Linked DNA regions of Homo sapiens. The protein of the gene in region 1 purifies or fractionates together with the protein of each later gene. This does not show direct contact. Each region holds a gene or a part of one and is shown on either strand. Other genes may lie near its edges.

What was found.
Region 2: the proteins of METTL6 (region 1) and PLS1 purify together in Homo sapiens (affinity purification with mass spectrometry; 3 studies listed by BioGRID and IntAct, with this or other methods). This does not show direct contact.
Region 3: the proteins of METTL6 (region 1) and U2SURP purify together in Homo sapiens (pull-down; one large-scale study listed by IntAct). This does not show direct contact.
Region 4: the proteins of METTL6 (region 1) and ACACB purify together in Homo sapiens (pull-down; one large-scale study listed by IntAct). This does not show direct contact.
Region 5: the proteins of METTL6 (region 1) and PSME3IP1 purify together in Homo sapiens (pull-down; one large-scale study listed by IntAct). This does not show direct contact.
Region 6: the proteins of METTL6 (region 1) and DENND4A purify together in Homo sapiens (affinity purification with mass spectrometry; 3 studies listed by BioGRID and IntAct, with this or other methods). This does not show direct contact.
Region 7: the proteins of METTL6 (region 1) and ANXA5 purify together in Homo sapiens (pull-down; one large-scale study listed by IntAct). This does not show direct contact.

What each region holds. Positions count from the first base shown.
Region 1 is NC_000003.12:15,417,545-15,421,044, reverse strand, and holds part of METTL6 (tRNA N(3)-cytidine methyltransferase METTL6), read left to right. Parts: intron 1-3,500. UniProt on the Homo sapiens protein: S-adenosyl-L-methionine-dependent methyltransferase that mediates N(3)-methylcytidine modification of residue 32 of the tRNA anticodon loop of tRNA(Ser), including tRNA(Ser)(UGA) and tRNA(Ser)(GCU).
Region 2 is NC_000003.12:142,672,893-142,676,392, forward strand, and holds part of PLS1 (plastin-1), read left to right. Parts: intron 1-3,264; coding exon 3,265-3,397; intron 3,398-3,500. UniProt on the Homo sapiens protein: Actin-bundling protein. In the inner ear, it is required for stereocilia formation. Mediates liquid packing of actin filaments that is necessary for stereocilia to grow to their proper dimensions.
Region 3 is NC_000003.12:143,036,070-143,039,569, forward strand, and holds part of U2SURP (U2 snRNP-associated SURP motif-containing protein), read left to right. Parts: coding exon 1-35; intron 36-1,109; coding exon 1,110-1,266; intron 1,267-2,038; coding exon 2,039-2,134; intron 2,135-2,824; coding exon 2,825-2,891; intron 2,892-3,500.
Region 4 is NC_000012.12:109,245,587-109,249,086, forward strand, and holds part of ACACB (acetyl-CoA carboxylase 2), read left to right. Parts: intron 1-39; coding exon 40-162; intron 163-592; coding exon 593-862; intron 863-2,019; coding exon 2,020-2,117; intron 2,118-3,500. UniProt on the Homo sapiens protein: Mitochondrial enzyme that catalyzes the carboxylation of acetyl-CoA to malonyl-CoA and plays a central role in fatty acid metabolism.
Region 5 is NC_000016.10:57,183,240-57,187,492, reverse strand, and holds the start of PSME3IP1 (PSME3-interacting protein), read left to right. Parts: upstream 1-1,453; 5' UTR 1,454-1,672; exon of another isoform or gene 1,673-4,046; intron 4,047-4,253. UniProt on the Homo sapiens protein: Promotes the association of the proteasome activator complex subunit PSME3 with the 20S proteasome and regulates its activity.
Region 6 is NC_000015.10:65,687,794-65,691,293, reverse strand, and holds part of DENND4A (C-myc promoter-binding protein), read left to right. Parts: coding exon 1-879; intron 880-3,500. UniProt on the Homo sapiens protein: Probable guanine nucleotide exchange factor (GEF) which may activate RAB10. Promotes the exchange of GDP to GTP, converting inactive GDP-bound Rab proteins into their active GTP-bound form.
Region 7 is NC_000004.12:121,670,214-121,672,980, forward strand, and holds part of ANXA5 (annexin A5), read right to left. Parts: intron 2,414-2,767; coding exon 2,320-2,413; intron 1,430-2,319; coding exon 1,334-1,429; intron 1-1,333. UniProt on the Homo sapiens protein: This protein is an anticoagulant protein that acts as an indirect inhibitor of the thromboplastin-specific complex, which is involved in the blood coagulation cascade.

The DNA.
Region 1 (3,500 bases):
ACTAAGTACAGGACTATGTCTAGTTCTAAGAGGTCAATTAACAAAGGTCACTCCCAGAGGATAGTCCTTCTTAAGAACTGAAAACGTGAATAAATGTTACACGTACATAATAAGCTGCCATTTGAAAGTGTCATCTAAATAGGAACGAACATTCTGGCATAGAACCCTTCCCACCTGTCAACTCAGTGGATAGATATAAGCATTTGTAGTGCTTAGAGGGGACTTTAACAATTTCACTTCCCTAAGTGTTTTTAAGAACAGTCTTTCCTATGAATTTGAACACAAAATGTACTCAGTGTATTAGGTTACTGACTCTACGTTGGTCATACGCTGTCAACCTCTTTAACATCTAGAACTAGATGTTGTAAATTAGGGCTCATTTGTCCTTCATATACACTATATACATAGCAAAGTAAAATAAAATGCATGGACATAAGGTACAGTGGTCAATCTTGCCTCACTGTAAACACATTGGTATAAAGCCCTTTGCACTTTATTCTCCTCCTTTTCTCCTGACGCAGTACAAATGTAATGATGTGTACTGCTTAGAGAAGTGGTTTGATCATTACATTTCCAAAAGGTAATATTTCAGTGAATTTTAACAAAAGGATATCTACAAAATGTGTTACTTACTACCCTACTTTTAACATACTTTGTGCACTTCTAAACATCTAGAAAGTCTCGATGTTTTAAATAAGGACTTAAGTCTGTCCACTTTATACACAGTAGATTTTTAAAAATAGTTGTGGTATCATATTTACCATAACATGCTTTCCTCATTCTACATTATTATATTTTGCAGAGTTTTTCATGTTAGTACATGTAGATTTTATTTACCTGTTATAATATTCCATGGAATGGATATAGCATACTTTAACAGTTACCTGGCTGGTGCAGTGGCTCACACCTGTAATCTGAGCACTTTGAGAGGCCGAGGTGGGCAGATCACGAGGTCAGGAGATCGAGACCATCCTGGTTAATATGGTGAAACCCCATCTCTACTAAAAATACAAAAATTAGCCGGGCATGGTGGCGGGCGCCTGTAGTCCCAGCTACTCGGGAGGCTGAGGCAGGAGAACGGCATGAACCTGGGAGGCGGAGCTTGCAGTGAGCTGAGATCATGCCACTGCACTCCAGCCTGGGTGATAGAGCGAGACTCTGTCTCAAAAAAAAAAAAAAAAAAGAAAAACAGTTACCCTATTTATATTTATTTGAATTGTTTCTATTTTTTTGCTCTTACAAATAGGGTTAATGTGATCAGCATCATATATATGTTCCCAAAATGTCTGTACACATTTGTCTGTGATGAATAATGGAAGAAGCAGAATTCCTTGGAAGAAGAGCATGCTCATTTATATTTTAATAGACAATGCCAAGTTTCCTTCCAAAAAGCTCATACTAATTTATAATTTCACCAATAATGTAAAGGTACCTTTTTCTGTATTGCCTCAACTCTTGATATCAGTCTTTTTTATATTTACCAATCTTTTGGACAAAAAATAATGCCTCCATATTTTAATTTGTTTTTTCCTTATTACCAGAGAGGTTGAAGGCCTTGTGGAAGGTTGATAGCAATAGTTAGCTGTGAGTTTATTTAGTCCACATTTGTTTATTGAGAGCTTAATGTGTGCCAGTCACTGTTCTAAGCACTGGAGTTAAACAGTGAACAGACAGGCAAAAATTCCCACCCACATGAAGTTTGTAGTAGGAGTTGTCCATTCATAACCTCTGCCCATTTTTCTATTGGTTTGTCATTTTCTTTCTTATTTTCAGGATATATTCTAGATATTTTGGTATGTATGTTGCAAACATTTCTTCTAGTTTATTCAGCATCGCTTTACAGTATCTCTTTTTTTTTTACACAAGGATTTATTTTATTTTATTTTTGGACAAGGTCTCACTGTGTCACCTAGGCTGGAGTATAGTGGTGCAAATTGCAGCTCACTGCAGCCTCGACCTTGTGGACTCAAGTGATCCTCAGCATCCTGAGCTGGGACCATGGGCATGCACCACCATGCCTGGCTAATTTTTAAAAATTTTTTGTAGAGATGAGGTCCTGCTGTGTTGCCCAGGCTACACAGGATTTAAATTATCATGGCAAAATATTAATCTTTTCCTTTTGAAGTTCTATTTTATGTCTTGTTTAGGAGTCCTTTACTCCTAGGATTTACTTTATTTTTCTTAGAGATCAGGTCTCACTATCCCAGGCTGCTCTCGAACTCTTGGGTTCAAGCGATCCTCCTGTCTCAGCCTCCCAAAGTGCTGGGATTACAGGTGTGAGCCACTGCGCCCAGCTATTCCTAGGATTTAGACATAATCACCTATATATTGCTCTTACTAATTTTTGGTTATATAGTTATTTTATAATTTTGGTTATGTTTTTTAATCTGGAAAAATTAGGGTCATTATTTCTTTGAATTCTTTCTTTAGCTCTTGTTCTCTCTTCTCCCTCTGGGATTCCAGTTATGTGTGTAACATTTTCTATTGCCCCACAGCCCTTAGATGCTGTTGTTATAGGGTTTATTCCCCCACTTTTTTCCTTTTTGCATTTTCAGTTTGTGTAATTTCTATTATCCTATCATCAAGTTCACTGACTGTTTCCTAGGCAGTACCTGTTTTGTTGAGAAACCTATTGAAAGTGTTCATTTCTTTTACCATATTTTTGGTTTTTAGCATTTCTCTTAGAGTCTTTTTATAGTTTCCATCCCTGAAATTATGTATCTGATTTTGCATGTTGTCTGTCTTTTCCATTAGAGTCTTTAGCATTTTAATCATAATTATTTTAAATGCCCAAGCTTTTGGATCCAGCATCTGTCATATTTGAGTCTGGCTCTGGTGATGGCTTATTCTCTTCACACTATGTTTTTTGCCTTCTGGGATGTTTTCTACTTTTTGGTTAAAGCTAGACATATTATAAGGGCCAGTAGATACTGAGGGATAGGGATTTGTAACAATCTAGTCAGGAATTGGGCTGTTGTTTGAAGTCTGTTGTTGCTGTCTGTGAGGTTTGTTGTTGCTGTGGGCACCAGAGACTTCAAACCCCTCTAGCAACTTGTTTTTGTCTCCTCTCTTGGATTTGGGTCTTCCCTTTGTACCGTTTCCCAAAGAGTCTATCTGTTGTGGCTCTCCCAGCTGCAATTTCCTGTTATTCTTGGAGATTCGATGGTGGGGTGTGGGAGAGGGGGTCGTTCTCTAATGTTCTGCTTCTCCAAATTTGAACTGGTACCGTGGGCCTGTGTCTCAAGGGTAGTCATTTGTCTCAAGGGTAGCCAGTTCTTCTAAACACAGTAAATTGAATGAGAAATTTTTTCCTCACTCATAATTGTCATCTTTATTATCTACCTTTTTGTCTAATTGTCACCTTTGTCTATCTTTTATCATATAATATACAAAATTCCTGTTTATATATACAGTATATACAGGTCTGTTTTGGGACTCTGTTTTGTCTCAGTGATACATTTGTCTCCATTCTCAAACCATGTTGTTTTATTACTACGTTT
Region 2 (3,500 bases), about 130 Mb from region 1:
AGAACACTATATTCATTATCAGTCACTCCCCATTTCCCTCTTCCCGAAGGCTCTGCAACCATTAAACTGCTTTCTATTTCTACAAATTTGCCTATTCTGGAAGTTTCATATAAATGGTATCATACTGTAGTGGCCTTTCATTTGACAGGCTTCTTCACTGGTGTAATATTTTCAAGGCTTATCCATGTTGTCACATATATCATACTTCATTCCTTTTTTTCTGACTGCAGCCTCGACCTCCAGAGTTCAAGGGATCCTCCCACCTCAGCCTCCCAAGTGCATAACCATGCCTCCCAAATGTGTACCACCATGCCCAGCTAATTTTTCTATCTTTTGTAGAGATGGGGTTTTGCTATGTCACCCAGGTTGATCTTGAACTCCTGGGTTCGAGCGATCTGCCTGCCTTGGGATTACAGGTGTGAGCCATGGTACCTGGCCCCTTCATTCCTTTTTATTGCTGAATATTCCATTCTATGGGCAATACCACATTTTGTTTATCCTTTCATCAGGTGATGGACATTTGGGTTGTTTCTAGTGTTTGGCTATTATAAATAATGCTATATGAACACTCATGAATGCATTTGTGTGTGGACATATACTTTGAATTCTCGTAGGCATATACTTAGGAGTAGAATTGCTTGAATTTTTGTTAACTCTATGTTTATCATTTTTAAAGAACTGCCAAATTGTTTTCCAAAGTGGCTGCACTTGTGAGGGCGATCTGGCTGCGACATCTGTCACCCCATTGATTGCCAGGGTTGATTTGGCTGATCTGGCTGGCTAGGCAGGTGTCCCCTTCCTCCCTCAGTGCTCCATGTGAGTCCTTCCCGAAGCTGCGTGCTCGGTTGAAGAGGACAACCATCCCAATAGAAGAGGACTGGTCTTTGGTCAAGGGTATACGAGTAGCTGCACTCCCCTGCTAGAACTTCCAAACAAGCTCTCAAGGTCCAAAGTGGCTGCACCATCTTACATTCCCACCAGCAATGTATGAGGGCTCCAGTTTCTTCAATTCTCACCAACACTTGTTTTTGTCCATTTAAAAAATTACAGCCATCCTAGTGGTTGTGATGTGGTATCTCATTCCTGGTTCCTATACCTGAAACATCCTTTCTTTCCTTGCCTATATTCACCTATTGAAAAACTATATTTCAAATAGTACCTCCTCTATGAAGCCTTTTCTTGATCACCCTAACTAAAAGTGATTGCTTCTTTTTTTAAATTCTGCAAACATTGCATATATATTTCTGGTGGTGTGTGTATTTCCCTTATATCACATTTCTTTGTATATTTGTTTTACAATTACACTAAAAAATTCCTCAATGGCAGATACAGTATTTTAGTGATCTCTGAATTCCTAGACTCCAAATCCTTCTAAGGAGGTGTGTATGAGGAGGCGAGAAGATAAGGCAGATTATGATATGTACAAAGAGGAAATATTAGTACATATTTGTGTTTTTGTTGACTTGTGTGTGTATGTATGTGTGGTGGATTAAATTTTGGGGGTACCTGCAAAATATTCCCTTGGGAAAATTACTTAATTCTAGGAACTGGGGCAACAATGGAGAAGGCCAAATCATTATGTGCTACCCTCTGATGGAAATGGGGATTATTTACTTTAAGGATTTATAATCTTAAATGGTTTTTATATCTACAGAATAATAATAAAGTTGTACAATGTTTTTACTTTAAGTTCCTTCCTATTTTCCCCACTGCATAACCCAACAAAATTTTCTACTTAAGATCAATGTACCCATACTAGAAGCCATGTGTTGAGAAGTTGTTGGATGAAGATGGCCAAAGATAGTGCTGGTATCTAGATTTGTGTCAATTTTTTCTTCGTTTTTTGTTTTTTTGAGACAAGAGTCTTGCTCTGTTGCCCAGGCTGGAGTGCAGTGGCGTGATCTCGGCTCACTGCAACCTCCGTCTCCCAGATTCAAGCAATTCTCCCTGCCTCAGCCTCCAGAGTAGCTGGGATTACAGGTGCCTGCCACCACACCTGGCTAATTTTTGTATTTTTTAGTAGAGATGGGGTTTTGCCATGTTGGCCAGGCTGGTCTCAAACTCCTGACCTCAGGTGATCTGCCCACCTCAGCCTCCCAAAGTGCAGGGATTACAGGCATGAGCCACCGCACCCAGCCAATTTGTGTCAATTTTTTAATAGTTAAATTCCATTGAAATTGAGCTGTTTTATTCATTTGAATAACTCTTGACTGAATTCAGTATTTCTGTTGTAAGCTAAAAATCACAGCTCTCTAAACCTTTTGGGGAGGATGGGATTTATTGCCATGGTATTTGTTTCTTGTATTTTTTTCCTTATTTAATTAACATATACATATTTGACCTCCGATGGTCTGCTTCTGACTCATTAGCTTTCAGAAGCAATACATATTTGGAAATATTTTTGAATCAAACCAAATATATATTGTGCTCATTTAAGATATATACCTTCATCTCTCCTAATAGATCAGTTTTTTGTTTGTTTTTTTGTTTGTTTTTTGTTTTTGTTTTTGAGACAGAGCCTTGCTCTGTCACCAGGCTGGAGTGCAGTGGCGCGATCTCGGTTCACTGCAAGCTCTGCCTCCTGGGTTCATGTCATTCTCCTGCCTCAGCCTCCCAAGTAGCTGGGATTACAGGCCCACGCCACCATGCCCAGCTAATTTATTTTTGTTTATTTAGTAGAGATGAGGTTTTAACATGTTGGCCAGGATGGTCTTGCTCTCTTGACCTCGTGATCTGCCCGTCTCAGCCTCCCAAAGTGCTGGGATTACAGGCGTGAGCCACCGTGCTCCCCGTTTTTTTTTTTGAAAGGGTCTCTCTTTGTGGCTTAGGCTAAAGTGCAGTGGCAGGATCTCCACTCACTGCAACCTCCACCCCCCGGTTCAAGCAATCCTGAAGCCTCAGCCTCTCGAGTAGCTGGGACTATGGGCATGTGCCATTATGCCTGGCTAATTTTTGTATTTTCAATAGAGACGGGGGTTTCTCCATGTTGCTCAGGCTGGTCTTGAACTCCTGACCTCAAGTGATCAGCCCGCCTTGGAAGTGCTTTGGGAAGTGCTGGGATTACAGGCGTGAGCCACCACACCCAGCCACCTTTCTTCTTTTCTTGAACCCTTTTGTGTTTTAGTAGATTTGTAATAATGGTCAATTATTATCTTTGAGCAGAAATTAACAAGTATGTTTTTGTAGTGCAATAGCTATGTATGTTTTTATAGTGCAATAAAGTTTGTGAAATGAGATTTGCCTACCAAGGTTTTCTCCTTTCAGAGGAAGAAAAAGTGGCTTTTGTTAACTGGATAAACAAAGCCCTGGAGAATGACCCTGACTGTAAGCATCTTATACCCATGAATCCCAATGATGATAGTCTTTTCAAGTCACTTGCAGATGGCATCCTTCTTTGGTGAGTTGAACTTCTGGTTAAGGAAGCTGCGTTCTTGCTGATTACATTGATGAGCATTCCATGAAAACTCCAATTCAGCTGTCCATTGTCTTTTGGAGTCAGT
Region 3 (3,500 bases), about 130 Mb from region 1:
GACTTGTAAATATTATTGAAGAAAAGGAAACAGAGGTAGGCAGTCTGTATTTGTCTGGTTGTTTTTAAAATTCGTTTCTGGGGTGGAGGTTTCTTGGAGTTGTTCTGTGTTACATATGTGAGGTACATTTCTTTGTGAAAAATATCTATTGCTTACCATTAAGTAGTGGATTTTTATTGCTGGAACCCAGAAGTCAAAATTACATGTAACAGGAATTCTCTGTCTTGTGTCCTTATGTGAAAATTGGTGAGTGTTTTTTTTATTTAATGATATAAGAGTTATGATATATTGTTAATAGTAGAAAATAAGCAAGTAATAGAGCAATATGTATAGCATGACTTTATTTTGTTAAAGATAGCTATATAAGTAAAATATGTGCATGAAAAGATGCATCACATGATAGCAGATATACATCACCATTCTGTTGTTTTTTTTCTTTTTTACCTCCTAAATAATTACTGAATCCTTAATGTTTAATTCTGCCATGCTAGTCAAGCTATTATGTTTTCACTTTCACTCCTGCAGGATCTTCCTAATTGGCCTTACTGTTGCAACCCACGTGGTCCTTGTTTCAGTTTCTTAAATGTGTGTTTCCACCTACCATTGGACTTTGTACATGTCCTTCCCTCTTTCTGGGACTTATCTTCACCTGAGATCCTTCAGATCTCAGCTCAAACATAACCTTAGCCTTCTCTGACCTCTTTAAGTGAAACTTAGTATGCTAATAGTATGATACGCCCTTTTGCTGTAGCAGTTACCATAGTTACAGATAAGTATATATTGTTGTGATGATCTGATTTCCTGGTTCCCCCACCCCTGCAAAACAACAGCAAAAACCTTTACCAGGCTCTATAACAGGGGGACCAAACTTGTTTTTGCTCATCATTGCCTCACAAGGTACCTGGCACCAGTGAGCACTTGGTAAATATTAGATAAATGCACAACTGACTGCTTCTTTAGCAAACTGGATGATAGAATATGTTCTTACATTGTACCTCAGATTGTGGGTATCCAGTTATGTTGGCTTGTACTGGATTACAAATTAATCTTACAAGCAATGTGACTTCAGCAAGCAAAGGAAAATGTTATAATAGTACACATTTCCATAGGATGTTCCAGATGACCTTGATGGTGCCCCCATCGAGGAAGAGCTTGATGGTGCACCTCTGGAAGATGTAGATGGAATTCCTATTGATGCTACTCCCATCGATGATCTTGATGGAGTCCCTATAAAAAGTCTTGATGATGATCTTGATGGAGTGCCTTGTAAGTTCAGATTTCAAACTGATTAAATCTAGCTAATACATTTGGTGACCAAAACTCTAATTTCCATACATGCTGATATGGAAAAAGGTTATAGTTTCTCATGAACGTATCAAGTTATTAACTTTTCTATTTCTGATTTTTTTCAAAATTCATATACCCAGTAATACATTTATTTGTATGCTATGTATATAAAAGGCCAAGAAGAAGCATTTTTTTCTGGTCACATTTCTTTGCTGGGACAATCAGCCTCCTATAATATTAGCAAGTTTCTCTTTTTGTCTTGTCAGGAAATTATAGGCAAAATCTTGTGCTCAGTTATGCATGATCCTAGGTACCTGGTTTTATCAGTTTTTATTAGTTTTTCTAACTTACAACTTCAGTTTTCCTAGCTGCCTAAAATCATTTTGAAAATAGGAACTGTAGACAGCTCTTTGGTACATTTGAATTATATGTTTAAATATTGAATAATGTATGCAGTTTTATATTTCAGAGATTAGGTAAAGATATTAAAGATTTGTTTTACTTCTCAACTTCTTCACTTGCTTAATATATTACTAACCTGTATTTTCTGAATTGATATATATACTGTTAAAAATATTGCCCTCAGATGCAGAGAATTGGTTTAGTCATAGTCCTTGTTCTTAGTATTACTATTTGTCCATCTGTGTCCTTATTTTACTTTGCTTTTTAATAATATGGTGAATACCCATGAATGTAATACTTCGGGTCATCCACTAGTAGTCAGGGTTAATGGCTTATCTTTCCCTAATAGTGGATGCAACTGAAGACTCAAAAAAGAATGAGCCTATATTTAAAGTTGCCCCATCAAAATGGGAAGCTGTGGATGAATCTGAATTGGAAGCACAGGGTGAGTAAAAGTAAAATAAATATTTTTTAAATTAAGTACTTGTACGTTAATTATTGGTGTGCTTGTATATATGTTTTCCTTTTATGTTTTATAACACGTTTTAACCTTAATGCTCAATGTTGTCATATTTTGTGTCTAATGTATGCTTTTATTGTGGTTGGTGTTGCTGTTACAATTTTCTTAGGTCCTTCAGTTTGGAAGCTTTGAGAGTAATGAGATATCACTGAAAACCTTTCAGGTTAAGGCATTTTAGTAGCAAATGTAGATTGGAAGCTGTACCTACGTAGAAATCTACATAGAGGTCAGTTTCATAGAAACCAAGCTTTGACCCTCCCATAATGCTAGACTGATTAGATGCAATTTAGACCTGTCTTTCACACTTACTTAGACCTGTATCCTAGTGCTAATAATCTAATTGTTGCTATTTGTAGGTTCTAATGAAATAAATCTTAATATTCAACACAGAAATAAGGATGACATTATTCGTCACTTCATGAATTTGAATTATATTGTAGGTGTGAGGAAAGAGATTTGGCATATAGAAATAACTATTTAGAGAATTGATAAACATAGATTAAAAAAACTTCTGTAATATAAACTTTTCAATTCTAAAGCTTGAGCTTCCACTGTACTACTGAAAAAATGCTAGTTTACCTCGTGGAATTACATCCTCCTTTTCCTTTCATTCAGCTGTTACAACTTCTAAATGGGAATTATTTGACCAGCATGAAGAATCAGAAGAAGAAGAAAATCAAAAGTAAGAATCTAAGTTTTGAATATACTGTTTCTTGTTCATATACACTCCCCTTTTCATTAAGAGATATAGTTGAAATAATAGTGAAGTGGAAAACTTCACTCTTAAAAAATTTTGGGAGAGGATCATTTTTAGTTCTCCATTGGTTTTCCAGTGAATAAAGAGCTTTTGTTTTCTGGTCTTGATGGATCTGGTTTCATTTTGCTTTTGAGTTTTTTACGCTAGGTTATATTCTCACTTTGTAGTTACTAATTGGTCAACTGCATTTTTTTCAAACCTTTGCCATCAAATACTGTTTTGGGCTCCATAAAAAGTGGTTTTTAAAATGTGAATAGGAAAGGTTATACTCCTTTCTTTTGGATTGTACATTCTAAGAAAAAGATTGCATTATGGCCATTGTGTTATTTAAATATAAACCTTTCAGAAGAACTAAGAATGAATACAAAGGAAAAAATCTTTTCTTTTGAAATATAGAGAAATAATAATTTTGATTTTGCTGTTTGGTAATCACCCCAAAATTGTTTTTGTATTTGACACTGTGTGGTTGTAGGAATCTCTCCTCTCAGATTCTCCTGCAAGTCTGTATTGGCAGTTTTTAGGAAGTTCTTGACA
Region 4 (3,500 bases), on another chromosome or scaffold:
ATGACTTCAAGTTTTTTCTCTTTCCTCTTCTCTCCCCAGGCTCTCTTTAAACTGTGGGGCTCCCCAGACAAGTATCCCAAAGACATCCTGACATACACTGAATTAGTGTTGGACTCTCAGGGCCAGCTGGTGGAGATGAACCGACTTCCTGGTGGAAATGAGGTAATAGCTCAGCGGAGCCTAACCCCTGGCTGGAGTCACCCCCTTAAAAATATTTTTGGGCCAGGTGCAGTAGCTCACACCTGTAATCCCAGTGCTTTGGGAGGCCAAGGTGGGTGGATCACTTGAGGTCAGAAGTTCAAGACCAGCCTGGGCTACATGGTGAGAACCTGTCTCTACATAAAATTTTAAAATTAGCTGTGTGTGGTGGTGTGCTCCTATAGTCCCAGCTACTCGAGAGACTGAGGCAGGAGTGATTGCTTAAGCCCAGAAAGTTGAGGCTGCAATGAGCTGTGATTGCACCACTGCACTCTGGCCTGCGCAACAGAGCAAGACCCTGTATCTAAAAAAAATAATAATAACTAAAATAAAATAAAAAGTTTTCCCCCAAAGAAACAAACTCATTTTCCTTGTGCATTCATCCCCTTGCCAGGTGGGCATGGTGGCCTTCAAAATGAGGTTTAAGACCCAGGAGTACCCGGAAGGACGGGATGTGATCGTCATCGGCAATGACATCACCTTTCGCATTGGATCCTTTGGCCCTGGAGAGGACCTTCTGTACCTGCGGGCATCCGAGATGGCCCGGGCAGAGGGCATTCCCAAAATTTACGTGGCAGCCAACAGTGGCGCCCGTATTGGCATGGCAGAGGAGATCAAACACATGTTCCACGTGGCTTGGGTGGACCCAGAAGACCCCCACAAAGTACGTCGTGAAACTGGCGGGGCAGGGTGATTCTGCTCAGCTACTACTGTATTTTCAGTGGGAGTGCTAGCACCTGCAAGAGGTGAAAAAAATCTCACTTATGTATAAAGCACAGATGTACATGTAGTGTATAAACAGGCATACAGTGTATCAGTGATACTAACATTTCACTGTGGCGGGGGGGATGGTGATGAGAAAAAAAAGATCTAAAAAGGCTCCTTAACGGGGATAATGAAAAAAGTCTATAAACCCTGAGCTGATATACACTGAGCGCTCCTGAATGCAGTGTGCACTGAGAATGCAGAGGTGATTGTGTCAACTCCCTGGCCTCATAGCGTTCTTAGAATTATGGCTCACACCTGTCATCCCAGCAACTCAGGAGGCTTGGGTGGGAGGATAGCTTGAAGCCAGGAATTCATGACCAAGCTAGGTAACCTAGGCAGCATAGCCAGACTTCGTCTCTACTAATGAAAAAACTAGGTGAGCATGATGGTGCCTGCCTGTAGTCAGCCTCAGCTACTTGGGAAGTTGAAGTGGGAGGATCACTTGGAGCCCAGGAGTTCAAGGCTGCAGTGAGCCATGATCATCATACCACTGCACTCCAGACTGGGCAACTGAGTGAGACCCCCCATCTCAAAAAAAAAGAAAAATCTTTGGGGAGTTGTATAGATACCAGCTTGCCATAAAAGGCAAGATGAATGAGGGAAGCGCACGCATTCTGTGATGTGAAATGACAGGGGACAGTCATCCTTTCCATTCAGAGCATGCATTCTCGGGGGCGATATTGCCCACTACCCCCAAGAAGACAGAAAAATAATTTTTGGGGTGGCAATAAAATAGTTTTTAACATATATACATATACAGAGTATGTAAATAGTGGTTAAACAGTGTATCTTGAAAATTAAAATTTCATGTTGGGGTGCTGGCAATAAGAAATAAAAATGAGATAGTCCTTAGAGGAGAGCTTAGCTCAAAGCAGAACTTCAGTTTATGGCTGTTATTAATACGGTATTTACATGAGATGTGTTAATGTGTCATTGACATGTTACTAACATGTTATTAACATCCATCCCTACGATGTTCACATTAAGAAAAAAAAAACAGTGGCTTTCAGTGCAGGGAACTGGATTCGTAGCCTCACTAAAGTATTTTTTAAGGGATTTAAATACCTGTACCTGACTCCCCAAGACTACACCAGAATCAGCTCCCTGAACTCCGTCCACTGTAAACACATCGAGGAAGGAGGAGAGTCCAGGTAAATAACTTATCAGGTAGCTCCTTAATTTTGCTCATGGTTAATTTCAGCTGTCTTCTTTCCTCGGGGCTTGTGGCGATATTTTCCAGTGGGGTGGTGGTGTTTGTATGATGGGAACCAATGCCTGTTGGGGGCACTGATGCCTTAAACATTTGTTAAACTCTCCAAGGTGAGTCCATCCTTGTCATTCTAAAATGAGTGACTCCTTTCACAAAAAATAGCACGTCATGTAGGGAGAATGAGATTGGATTCTCGTGAATCTCCTAGGAGCCGCAGGCTCACATTTTGTGACCAAACTGATGCAGCGGTGACTTGGCAAACTGGGAAGGTATGGGTGGGGCAGAGAGAGGTCTGTTCTTCGAGAGCATTCAAAGGCTACTATCTTTTCCAGGACAAGTTATGTTTTTCTCAGTGGGATTAACTGACTCAGGATTTCCTAGACTGGGTTTTTTGCAATGTTAGTGACAAGCTGGGGGGAAATTCCATAGTCAGATGAGTTTGGGAAACACTGGGTTAAATGAGATCTCATAAACATCTTTATTGCAGACCTTCTTAGTACCTGTAGCATGCTGTATTAGTCAGCGTTCTCCAGAGGGACAGGACTAGTAGGATATATGTATATATGAAAGGGACTTTATTAAGGAGAATTGACTCACATGATCATAAGGTGAAGTCCCATGATAGGCTGTCTGCAAGCTGAGGAGCAAGGAAGCCAGTAGTGGCTCGGTCTGAGTCTAAAAGCCTCAAAAGTAGGGAAGCCAATAGTGCAGCCTTCAGTGGCCAAAGGCCTGAGGGCCCCTGGCAAACCACTGGCGTGAGTCCAAGAGTCCAAAGGCCGAAGAACCTGGAGTCTGATGTTTGAGGGCAGGAAGCTTCCAGCATGTGAGAAAGATGAAAGCCAGAAGACTCAGCAAGGCAGCTTACTCCACCTTCTTTCACCTGCTTTTTCTAGCCGCGCTGGCAGCTGGATGACTGGATGGTGCGCACCCACATTGAGGATGGGTCTTCCTCTCCCAGTCCACTGACTCAAATGTTAATCTCCTCTAGCAACACCCTCAAAGACACACCCAGAAACAGTACTTTGCATCCTAAAGTTGACACTTAATATTAACCATCACACATGCTAAAGTGCATTGTGAATCTCTAACAGAGGCTGGCGGGACAGTGTTTCTCATTATGTGGCCCTGGAATTTTTGATTGATTGATTGTGAATGGGTTTCCTCTGTGTACCCCCATCTCTCTGTAGACCGTTGGAGGAATATGGGCCGAGGGTGATATTTCACTGAGACAGCCCCTGAACAGGCAGATATCTTTGGTTGTATAAACCAAAAAGTATCTGAGACAGGTCTCAATCAATTGAGAAGTTTATTTTGCCAAGGTTAG
Region 5 (4,253 bases), on another chromosome or scaffold:
TGGTAGGTAAAGGGCCTGGAAAACTGCGGGATTCTACTCAGTCGATAACAGACACTTCTAACCCTTCAAAGTTCAAAGTACAACACTCCAGGGGGAGCAACCTCTCTCAGAGAACTATACAAGACAGGACCTCGGAGTCTCAGCCGACCGCCTCGGTCTCAGTCGGTTTCCCTCCCCAAAGACGGGGAAAGTGAGGCAGCAGGAGAGACAAATGCCTAATTTGGACTCACGCAAGGGGTGTTGGTGGGATAGACTCTCCCCACCCCACTCGGGCAATAAGCCCGGAAGCAGTTGGATCCTGTGTCTGGGACACCTGGTCGATCTACAGAGAGAGGGAATAATTCCCGTTTCCCTTTCACTACTCCCCACTCTGGCTTTCCTGTGGATGGAGGTGTCTTCTTCCCATCACCGCCCAGAAATCCCCTCTCCCCAAGGTCCTTACCCAATTTTCAGCTCCGGCTTCCGTAGTAGGACATTCCGCTAGTTCTAGCTCCTGCTTCCTAGCCCCATTCTCTCTCTATCCCAAGGCGTTTCTAAATCTCCCCGGGGAGGTATGCCTCATCCGTGCCACCTAGACCGTAAACTCCACAAAAAGAACCCTCCTAAAGCGTCCCTTCATCTACCCTTTCTATCCCGGGCACCCCTGAGTAGGTCAGGACCCCATCGGTACCAGGAGCCACCCCAGGAGATAGATAGCTGCCTCTCACCTGGGCCCTGTTAGCCGCAGCCTCCTCAGAAGGGCGACCCCCAAGAACCTCTTCTGGTGAGGACCCCCGAAAGAGGGAACACCCTCTTCTAGGAACCTCTTCAGATCCCTCAAGCGCGGGCCTCGGTGGAAAACCTCTCGGCTGTTTCTCAGGTTCTGACCAACGCCACCTCTCTCCCGGGCCCTTTCCAGAGCCTACCCCGGCCCCAGTCCGGTCCGCCCGCCCCAGGCTCGAGCGGCTGTTCCCCTCCCTCACAGACGTCCCCAACCCTCAGACTCCCTCCCGTTCCGCGTGCCCAGGGCTCAGAGCAGCGCGGTCGGGCTGTGGCACTGACTTTCTCTACCTCCCGGGCCCACCGGAGGGAGGGGGCGGCGGCGGCGGCGCGACTCCTTTGTGACAGGTCCGAGAGAACGGCAAAGATGGACGCGAGGCCACGGCGCTGCCATTACGCGCAGAGCCCACCCCCGCTTCGTACCGCCCCAGCCCTCCCTCAGTCCCCTAGGAAACGCCCCTTCCTCGGTGGCAAGCCCTCTCCTTGACAGCCAATCACCTTTCAAAAATCGTGTCACGTGATCAGCGGGACCGGCCCGCCCTCCAGGCGCAGACTGGCCAGTCCTCATCCTGAGGCGTGAATGGCCCAATCAAGTCTCTCCGGCTCGTTTTCAGGGTACCGGATTTCCATCGGGCTCCCGGGGAGGAAGAGCTCCGCGGATTGGGTTACGTCGCCGGAAGTGGGGCGGGACTCTATTGTGGCGGTGAGGAACAGGAAGCCCTGAAGGGTCAAAAGAAATACAAAAGCAAAGGCTATTTTCTTTTTTTTTTTCTTTCTTTCATTCATTCCTTCCTCTGTTTCTTTCTTTCTTCCTTTCATTTTTTTTTCTTTTTTAAGAGCGAGCGGCTCTGCGGTGGCGGTTTGGGGTGGGCGCCGCCGAGGTGAGGTCGTCTCGCCTCCCGCGCGCCGGTAGGTGAGTGCGGCCTCGGTCCTGGCCTGGCGGCGACACCTGGGTTCCAGCTTCCTTACGGAAGAGATGAGCTGCGGCTGCTGTTAGGGTTAGGGCCAGGCCTGTTCTCAGTCCGCGCACCCGCTCCTTGTCCGGAGTAGCCGAAGCCTGGGGCTTGCGGGCCCAGCCTGAGGGGAGCTGAGGGTGCCCGCGGGAAGGCATCTGGGTCGCGGCGAGGACCCTTTCAGGCGGGCCCAACACTGCCGGGCGTTTAATGGGGTTTCCCCAATTTTCTGCTAGGTAGGGCCACCCAGGTTTCAAGTGAGTAGCAGGCTCCGTTCCAGAGGTCTTGGAACAGGTCCAGGTTACTCACTCGGATGTGCGGCGTCTGGTTGGAAATGGTTGAATCCCAGAATGGCAGTGCAGGATGGGAAGCACATTTATTGTGTGCCATGTACCAGTTGCTGTGCCAAGCGAATTTTCTATTACGGAAAACAAGCCAGCTGGCCCGTTTTGCAGAAAACTTAAGAAACAAAGAGAGTTGAAGCGTCATGCTTGAGAGTTGGTGGTCCTTGTGACTGTCAGTCCACACAGAGGAAAGGGGGAGACCTGTTTGTTCGTAGTCGTGGTTCTTTAATGTTAGTGGAAAACAAGATCTCCTGGGGCCCTTTTAAAATGCAGTTTCTCAGACTCCCGCACGCTCGGGTAGCCCGACTGGTTAGTTCAGGAGTGGGACCCAAGAAGCCAGATGCGAGCCTGGTGATCGGAATTCCCGATGACCTCTTGCCTACCACCTGTGACATAAGATTTGTCGATTCATCAGTTATTTGGTGTATTCATGTGTCCACAGGGACACCATAAAATGGAAGGCACCCTTCTGAAATATTTGAAGGGAATCAGTGGGTAGACTCCTTTTTGATACAAAGTATTGAGCCGACAGCAGCTTTTACAGTCTTTTAGTTAGATGACCTGCGAACAATTTGTAAGGATCTGAAAGTAGAGGCTGCCCGATTATCTTTCTCAACTGAAGTCTTCATGTCCTTACCCTGTGGGGAAGTGCTTCATGATATAAGAAAGGAATAATTGTGTCAAAACCATTTAGTTGATTATCAGTCTTCACTTTCATCTTCCAAGAATGGTGATGCTTGGTTAGAATCAAGCTGCTGCTTTAGCTATTGAAAACCACGTATGTGGTAAATCAAGTAACAAGTGCGATGTACGTACAGGGTCAGTCATAGTGTAATTATGCCTTTATGGCAGCTAAATTAAGCATTTTCAACGTGTTCACCATTAGTCACCTTTTGAACATACTTTGTCTTCATTCTTAAATATTATGTTTCACTCTTTACTATAGAATATGTTGTTAAGATTGTTTTGTCTAAAATCAAGTATCGACAAGTTTAAAAAAAAGATTGTTTTGTGTTTGGTTTTCTGTATTTCCACTATGCTCTATGGAACTATGGGTTTGTTTTTGTTCAATTTGTTTGGTATTTATTAGACTTCTTGAATCTGTGGATTAGTGTCTTTCATTAATTCTGTAAAATTCTCAGCCATTTTATATGCATATATTGCTTCTTCCCATTGTTTCTCTTTTTTTTTTTATCGATTTAACTAAACCTTTTCACTCTTTTCTCTATGTCTTTTACTCTGTTCTTTCGTAGTACATTCTGGATAATTTATTCTCAAGTTATTTCCATTGTTATTAAACTCGGCCTCTGAAATCTTAAATCATATATTGCAATTTTTAGTTTCTGAAGTTCTGTTTGGTTTGTGACACTTTTACAGTTTTTTATTTCTTACTATTTTGAGGCTTAATTTTATTTCTTTAAACATGGAAAGTATAGTTGTTTTTATAATCTCTATGTTTAATTCCACTGTCTGAATTCCCTTTGGGGGAGTCTGTTTCTGTTGTCCATTATTCCTGCTGTTTTACTTCCCAGTTCACCTTTACTTTGAAGCTGTAGTTCTTTTGGGCACAAGATTAAGATGGAGAGGGAGGTAGTTGTCAGACTCCACTCCCTGGATGGGCTCCTGGCTTGAACTTGTTTCTGTTATCTCATAAAGGCACTGAAACTTTAGCTTTTAGGTCAGAGAAGTCCTCAGGATGAAATCCATTTTGAATATTGGGCTTAATTTCTGGTTTTCACCTTCTAGATTGTGTCCAAATTCTTTACTATCTTGTTAGCTTTTCTATTTAAGAATTAATATTTTTGGCTGGGCGTGGTAGCTTACACTTGTAATCCCAGCACTTTGGTAGGTCGAGGTGGGCAGATCACTTGAGGTCAGGAGTTTGAGACCAGCCTGGCCAACATGGTGAAACCCTGTCTCTACTAAAAATACAAAAATTAGCCAGTCATGGTGGCGGGCACCTGCAATCCCAGCTATTCGGGAGGCAGAGGTAGGAGAATCGCTTGAACCTGGGAGGTGGAGGTTGCAATGAGCTGAGATCATGCCACTGCACTCTAGTCTGTGTGACAGAGCGAGACCCTATCTCAAAAAAAAAATTATTTTTGACAAATTTCCAGCATATTTAGTGCAGAGGTGGAGAATTGGTTTCAATTACCTAGCCCACTATTTCAAGAAATGAAAATCCCCCTGTATTCTG
Region 6 (3,500 bases), on another chromosome or scaffold:
GTTGAAAAATTGGGAGCTGATGCAAAAATTCTTTCAAATGTTATCTCAAAAAGCACGAGACCAAATACTCTTGATATTGGGAAGCCACCTTTAAGATCAAAAAGAGACAGTCTAGAAAAGGAATCTAGTGATGATGATACACCTTTTGATGGTTCTAACTATTTGGCAGATAAAGTGGATTCTCCTGTTATTTTTGACTTAGAAGACTTAGACAGTGAAACAGATGTATCAAAAGCAGGATGTGTTGCTACACAAAATCCCAAGAGGATTCAACGTATGAACAGCAGCTTTTCAGTAAAACCTTTTGAAAAAACTGATGTCGCAACAGGATTTGATCCCCTCTCTCTTTTGGTTGCTGAGACTGAACAGCAGCAAAAAGAAGAAGAGGAGGAGGATGAAGATGATAGCAAAAGCATTTCAACACCATCTGCTAGGCGTGATTTAGCTGAAGAAATTGTGATGTATATGAATAACATGAGCAGTCCTTTGACAAGTCGTACACCAAGCATTGATTTACAACGGGCATGTGATGATAAATTAAATAAGAAAAGTCCACCATTGGTCAAGGCATGCAGAAGATCTAGTCTGCCTCCTAATTCTCCTAAGCCAGTGAGACTTACCAAATCTAAAAGTTACACAAAAAGTGAGGAGAAACCAAGGGATAGACTTTGGTCTTCTCCAGCCTTCTCACCTACTTGCCCATTTAGGGAAGAATCTCAGGATACATTAACCCACTCATCACCTTCATTTAACTTAGATACACTACTAGTACCTAAACTAGATGTTCTAAGAAACAGTATGTTCACTGCTGGAAAAGGAGTTGCAGAGAAAGCAAGCAAATGGTATTCAAGATTCACCATGTACACCACATCATCTAAGGTAAGTTTGGTTAGTATTTGCTACTTTTACTGTCACACACACATATCCATCACCACCAAAAGCCCCTTACTCGTTTTAACTATTCTTCTAAACATAGCTTTATAAAAAGGACTCATTGGGTATGTAAGTTTTGTAAGTATCAGAATTGGAACTGAAATAATAACTTCAAAGAAAAGAAAACTTACTAAGGTTATATTTGTAGTTCAGTTTTGAAAGAGTGATTTGTAGCTGGAGTAAGAATTAGTGTCACGTGAAAGTACTTACTGAATTTCAGTATTTCCTTCAAGATGCAGATTTTTTTTCCAGATAATGTGTCCAATATGCCCTCAAAAATTACCAGTCAGGCATATGATTTGCCCTTCTGGTTAGGATGGAGTAACTTACGATAGACTTACATACCTTCCCCTAAGAGCTAAAAGCTAGATGAAATAGAGAAAGTATCTGTTTAAAGTCATCAGAGAACTGCTGAAGTAACTAGAAAGCAGAGAGGCAGGATTCTAGAGAGGTGAGCTGAAGTTCTAGAGCCACTTTCTCCCTGAGGGGATTTGCTCATTATGGGCATGAAGCACTAGGTTGTAAATCTAGGCTTTCCCTTATCAGAAGTTTTGGGAACTTGTGGGTTAGAGAGACAAAATTGAAGACTTTAAGGGCCTCAAATACACTGAAGATTTTCTTCCTTCAAGACATTTTCCAAATACTTGATACTGCATGAGAAGGGTAAGTAGAACGTCTGTGAGAAATCAAGTTCTCAGAAGTTTCATGGTACTGGAATCATAATAGCTCGATTCAGGAGCTGCCAGAGGGAGGAGGGCCTCAGTTGGAATACTTACAGAGGTATGCCTTAGGACCATTGGCAAACCAGAGGTAGACTAAGCCTGACCAAAATTGCAACCTAGACTTGACTCAGGTTATCTGTGATTTGGTTAAAATAATCAGCTTTTACTCTATCAACAGAGAAAAGATTGTACCTTTTCTGGAGAAATAAAACATCAGTTAGAATCCTTACAGTTTTTAATATACAATGTCTATCACTCAATTAAAAATAGCTATGCCAAGAGACAGGAACATAGCTAAAAAATGAAGAAAGCAGATAACGGAAAGAGACCCTCAAGTGATCCAGATGTTTGAATTAACAAGGGACTTTGAAATAATTATAATATGTTCAAGAATATAAAGGAAAAGGTTTAAAAAATAACTGTAAAGATGGAAGATTTCACTAGATAATTGGAATGTATTAAAAATAATCAAACCTAAATTTTAGAACTGAAAATGAAATAAAAAGCAAAAATCTTGAGCCAGAGAGAAGAGATGCATTACCTGCAAAGGAGCAGTGGTCTTCTGAAGAGAAACTATGATGTCAGAAGACACTGGAAAGATATCTTTAAAGTGCTGAAAGAAAATAACTGTCAACCTATTTTTCTGTACTCAACAAAAATATTCTTTAGGAATTGGGGTGAGAATACTGGTTCCACTGTGGTAACGTAAGGCCACCACAGCCCATCCTTCCCACTGATTACAACTTAAAAACCAGACAAAATATAAAAAACAACTAAGGACTCTGAAAAATAAATAAAAGCAGGCAGTTTCTGGGGAGAGACCAACACAGAAATGAGTTTATCATTTCCTTTCCTCATGCATCTTTGCCCCAAGGGCAGTCACATCATGGCATGGCACCTCTGGCAGATAAACTTCAAGAGAAACCCCATATTTCCTGAACAGAGAAGCCTGAGAAAGAGGCCTCTTTGTGCAGAAAGTTTGAGGGGAATCCCATACAAGTTTCACCCTACCCCTTGACCTGCACAGTTATGGGACAGATGCAAACTGGAATAGAAAAGGCTTAAGTAACTGAACTGCAAGTTCACTGCCTACAAAAAGTAAAACACAAATTACAGTCTGAATATAACTCAAGTGTTTGCCTGCTGAAACAAGAGCATCAACAATCTCGGAAGTATTATAACAGTACCCAGGCTACATAACATAATATTCAGTGTCCAAGATAAAATCCAAAATTACTTGGTATAAAGGACCAGGAAAATGTGACCAGTTCTCAAGGAAAAGACAACTCCAGAATGACTCAGATGTTGGAAGTATCAGGGAAAAACTTTAAAGCAGCTTCCATAACTGGTTCCTTTAGGTAAAGGAAAACACATTTGAAATAAATTAAAATAAATTCTAGCAAGAAATAGAATGTATTAAAACAAATTTTATAACTGAAATATAATCCAATGTAAACTGATCAAATGGGTTAAATAACAGAATGGAGATGACAATGAAAAGTAAACTTAAAGATACAGTAATAGAAATTAGAAGAAGAGAGAAAAGATTTTTATAAAAATAAACAGCCTCAGGGACTTGTGTGACAATATCAAAAGGAACAAATGAAATATGGATAACTGGAGTTCCAGAAGAACTGAAGAGAGATTCTGTTAGAAAAGATATTTGAAGATTTGAAAAAATAATGGCTGAAACCTCCAAAATTGGTAAAAGATACAGATTTATAGATACAAGAGACTCAGCAAATTACAGACAGAATTAAACTCAAAACCACACTTGCACACATCAAAAGTAAACTAAAAATCAGAGATATTCACCTGCTAACAAGAAAACGGCTGCTAAAAAAA
Region 7 (2,767 bases), on another chromosome or scaffold:
TTCTGAGGTCTGCATAGAAAGGCATGGAGAATAAGGGCACAGGTTTTTCTATGCGCCTTGGTTCTGTGAAGACTTTTTGGATACTGCAGTTTGGGCAGCCTGGATTGTTATCATAATACCACAACATTCTTCATCACCAATAAATTACACAAATCCCTTGGAAGTTTTCATTCCAAGACATTAAAGCAAATAATACAAGATTACTACCTAATTTTTTTAAACTCTTGGGTGATCTTCCTATACTCTCTACATATTCTTTAATATCAATGATTCACACAGAGCAGCATGAGATTTATCCATTTCAGTACAAAAACAGATAAATCAATATCAGAAAGGATCTCTTCTCTGAACATGTACATGTTGAATGTAGGTTGGGGCTGCTCAGACCTCAGTCTGCTTAGCTTCAGAAAATCTATCATGAAAATTCCTTAATATACAAAAATAATCCTTGCATGTGGAGATTTCTTAATTCTCCCTTTTCTAAGTCTTAAGAAAAACAGCCACCAGTAACTGAAAATGTCTTAATTTGTATGCGTATTCTAATTATGAAGGACCTGTCTAAAAGTTTTCTGGTAAAAGTACATTAACTGTGTACTCAAGTGAAAGGCTACTTTTAGAGTTGGTTCATGCAGATCTTTAGCTTAGTCTCCTGAAGACAGAGAGCACAAAAGTGTGAGCTCAAGGCCAAATACTTGGAACAAACAGCAGACAGAGGCTCACTGCAGACCCATATGAACAAAAGGACCACAGGAGACTCACAAACTAGATTCTCCCTAGCTTTGGAGTACATAATACTGCAATCAACTGCACAGATTCAGTTCTCCAATTTTTCCAGATTATTCTGAATATTTAATTAAAATAAAACTAAATTATTTAATTTGAAAACAACCATCATCACATCTTCTATTACATCAAAGATATTCTTCTTTTCTAAACCAGATGACAATTTCTTAGTCTGCCTCAAAGCTGAGAGAACAGTATTCAAAAAAATTCTAAAATTCCACAGGTATCAGAAATAATGTTTACAAGCCTCTGAGATAATGTCCACGACATTTCAGGTTTATCAATAAATAATATTTTTAATGCAGCTTCAAAATGATTTTTAAACAATTATCTTAGTATTTCCATAGGATTTAGATGAACTAACCAGACAATCCTGTATTTCCAACATCAAAATAAATTTCTGAATTGGAAATTTGGGAGTTTGCTTCCCCTAAATATCATATCAAGCTCTTCCTTCACACCTAGGTGGTTATTTTCAGATGCAGCCTCAATTGAATAAAATGCTTTAGCTCTTACCACCAAAAATATCAATACATTGTAAATCACCTACCAACAGCAAGGAGTAGTTGCTCTAAATTGCCAGAAGTCTCGCGGTCAATGGTTTCCTCAATTTGAAATCCTGATATAGTCATGTACTTGTCAAACACTAGAAAAAATAAAAATGATTCCCTAATCATGTAGGGATCACTCTTTCCAGAAAGATGGTATTTACTTTGATTAGGTAGTGTCTTACTGAACACAAATCTCCCCTTCTTCCTTGCTGACAGAACCTTGTGCTCAAAGCCTCAATGTGCCAAGCCCTAAGCAATGGATTGTAAATATACTTTGTTCACTGATTGCCAGCCCCCTTACGAGTTATAGCCAATGAGACCTAAAGGTAAATCTACTGGAGGGGATGCTGAGAAATCTCCTCACTTACAAAAAGTGATACACAGATAGGACTAGTTTACCCTTTTCTTTCCTTCCTGCTGTGAAATGGTTAAGTTTGGAGCTAGAGCAGACATCTTATGATAATGAAGAAAGAAAACCAAAACACTAGGGATAATGGAGCAAAAAGAAAAACCAGAAAGATCTCAGGTCCTGCCAAATCAACCATGGAATCCCACCTCTGGAAAAAAAGCCCAATTTTTAAAGCCACTATTAGGGTTCTCTGTCACTTGCACTAAATTCATTCCCAACTGATACCACAAGTGCTGATGACTATCCAGAGATAAGGTCCTGGGTACCAACCTCTAGGAGGAAATACGTGTAGTGAGCCACTATTCAGTGATGTGTGACTATGAGAGGAACAATCTAGAGAACTGACCTCCCTTGCCATCCTCCAATAGTGAAGGGTGGACTCAGGATCTCTAGTTTGTAAAAGCTACAACAGCAGCAAAAACAATGTTGAGATTTCTCCAGGTCACCAAAAGGAAGAAATACAAAAACTGATTCATTCTCTAAGTCCCTGCTATGTAGCAGGTATTCTGTCACACTGGCTCATGCACTTTCCAAATTTACCAATGTATCTGCCCCATACAGATTTTTTTCACTCACCCTTTCTCAAATGAGACACACTTCGTGTTCCAAAGATGGTGATAAACTTTTCTTCATCTGTCCCCCATTTAAGTTCTCCAGCCTGAAATAAAGCCTGCAAAAATTTCAAACTCAATTAATAAATTGTTCCTCCATCTCATTTCCAGGTTCTTAAACACACTTGTTTTTTACTCCCTGAATTTTAACTCACTTGATTCATCATCTTGTATTAATAGTTTTCATTTCTAATGTGTCCTACTCTGAAACTCAGCTCACTGAGTTTGGAGCACCTTTGGAGCTTGCCACTGAACTGTGCCACAGAAGATTCATGGGTCCAAGCAACAAAGCACGGCAATGGTGCAAGGTTACATGTTCCCAAAATGTCTGCCATAACCTCCAATCTTTCAGAAGCAACAGTATGGGTCAGGAGAAAGTTATGACTACCTCACTGTTGATACATCCATGTATA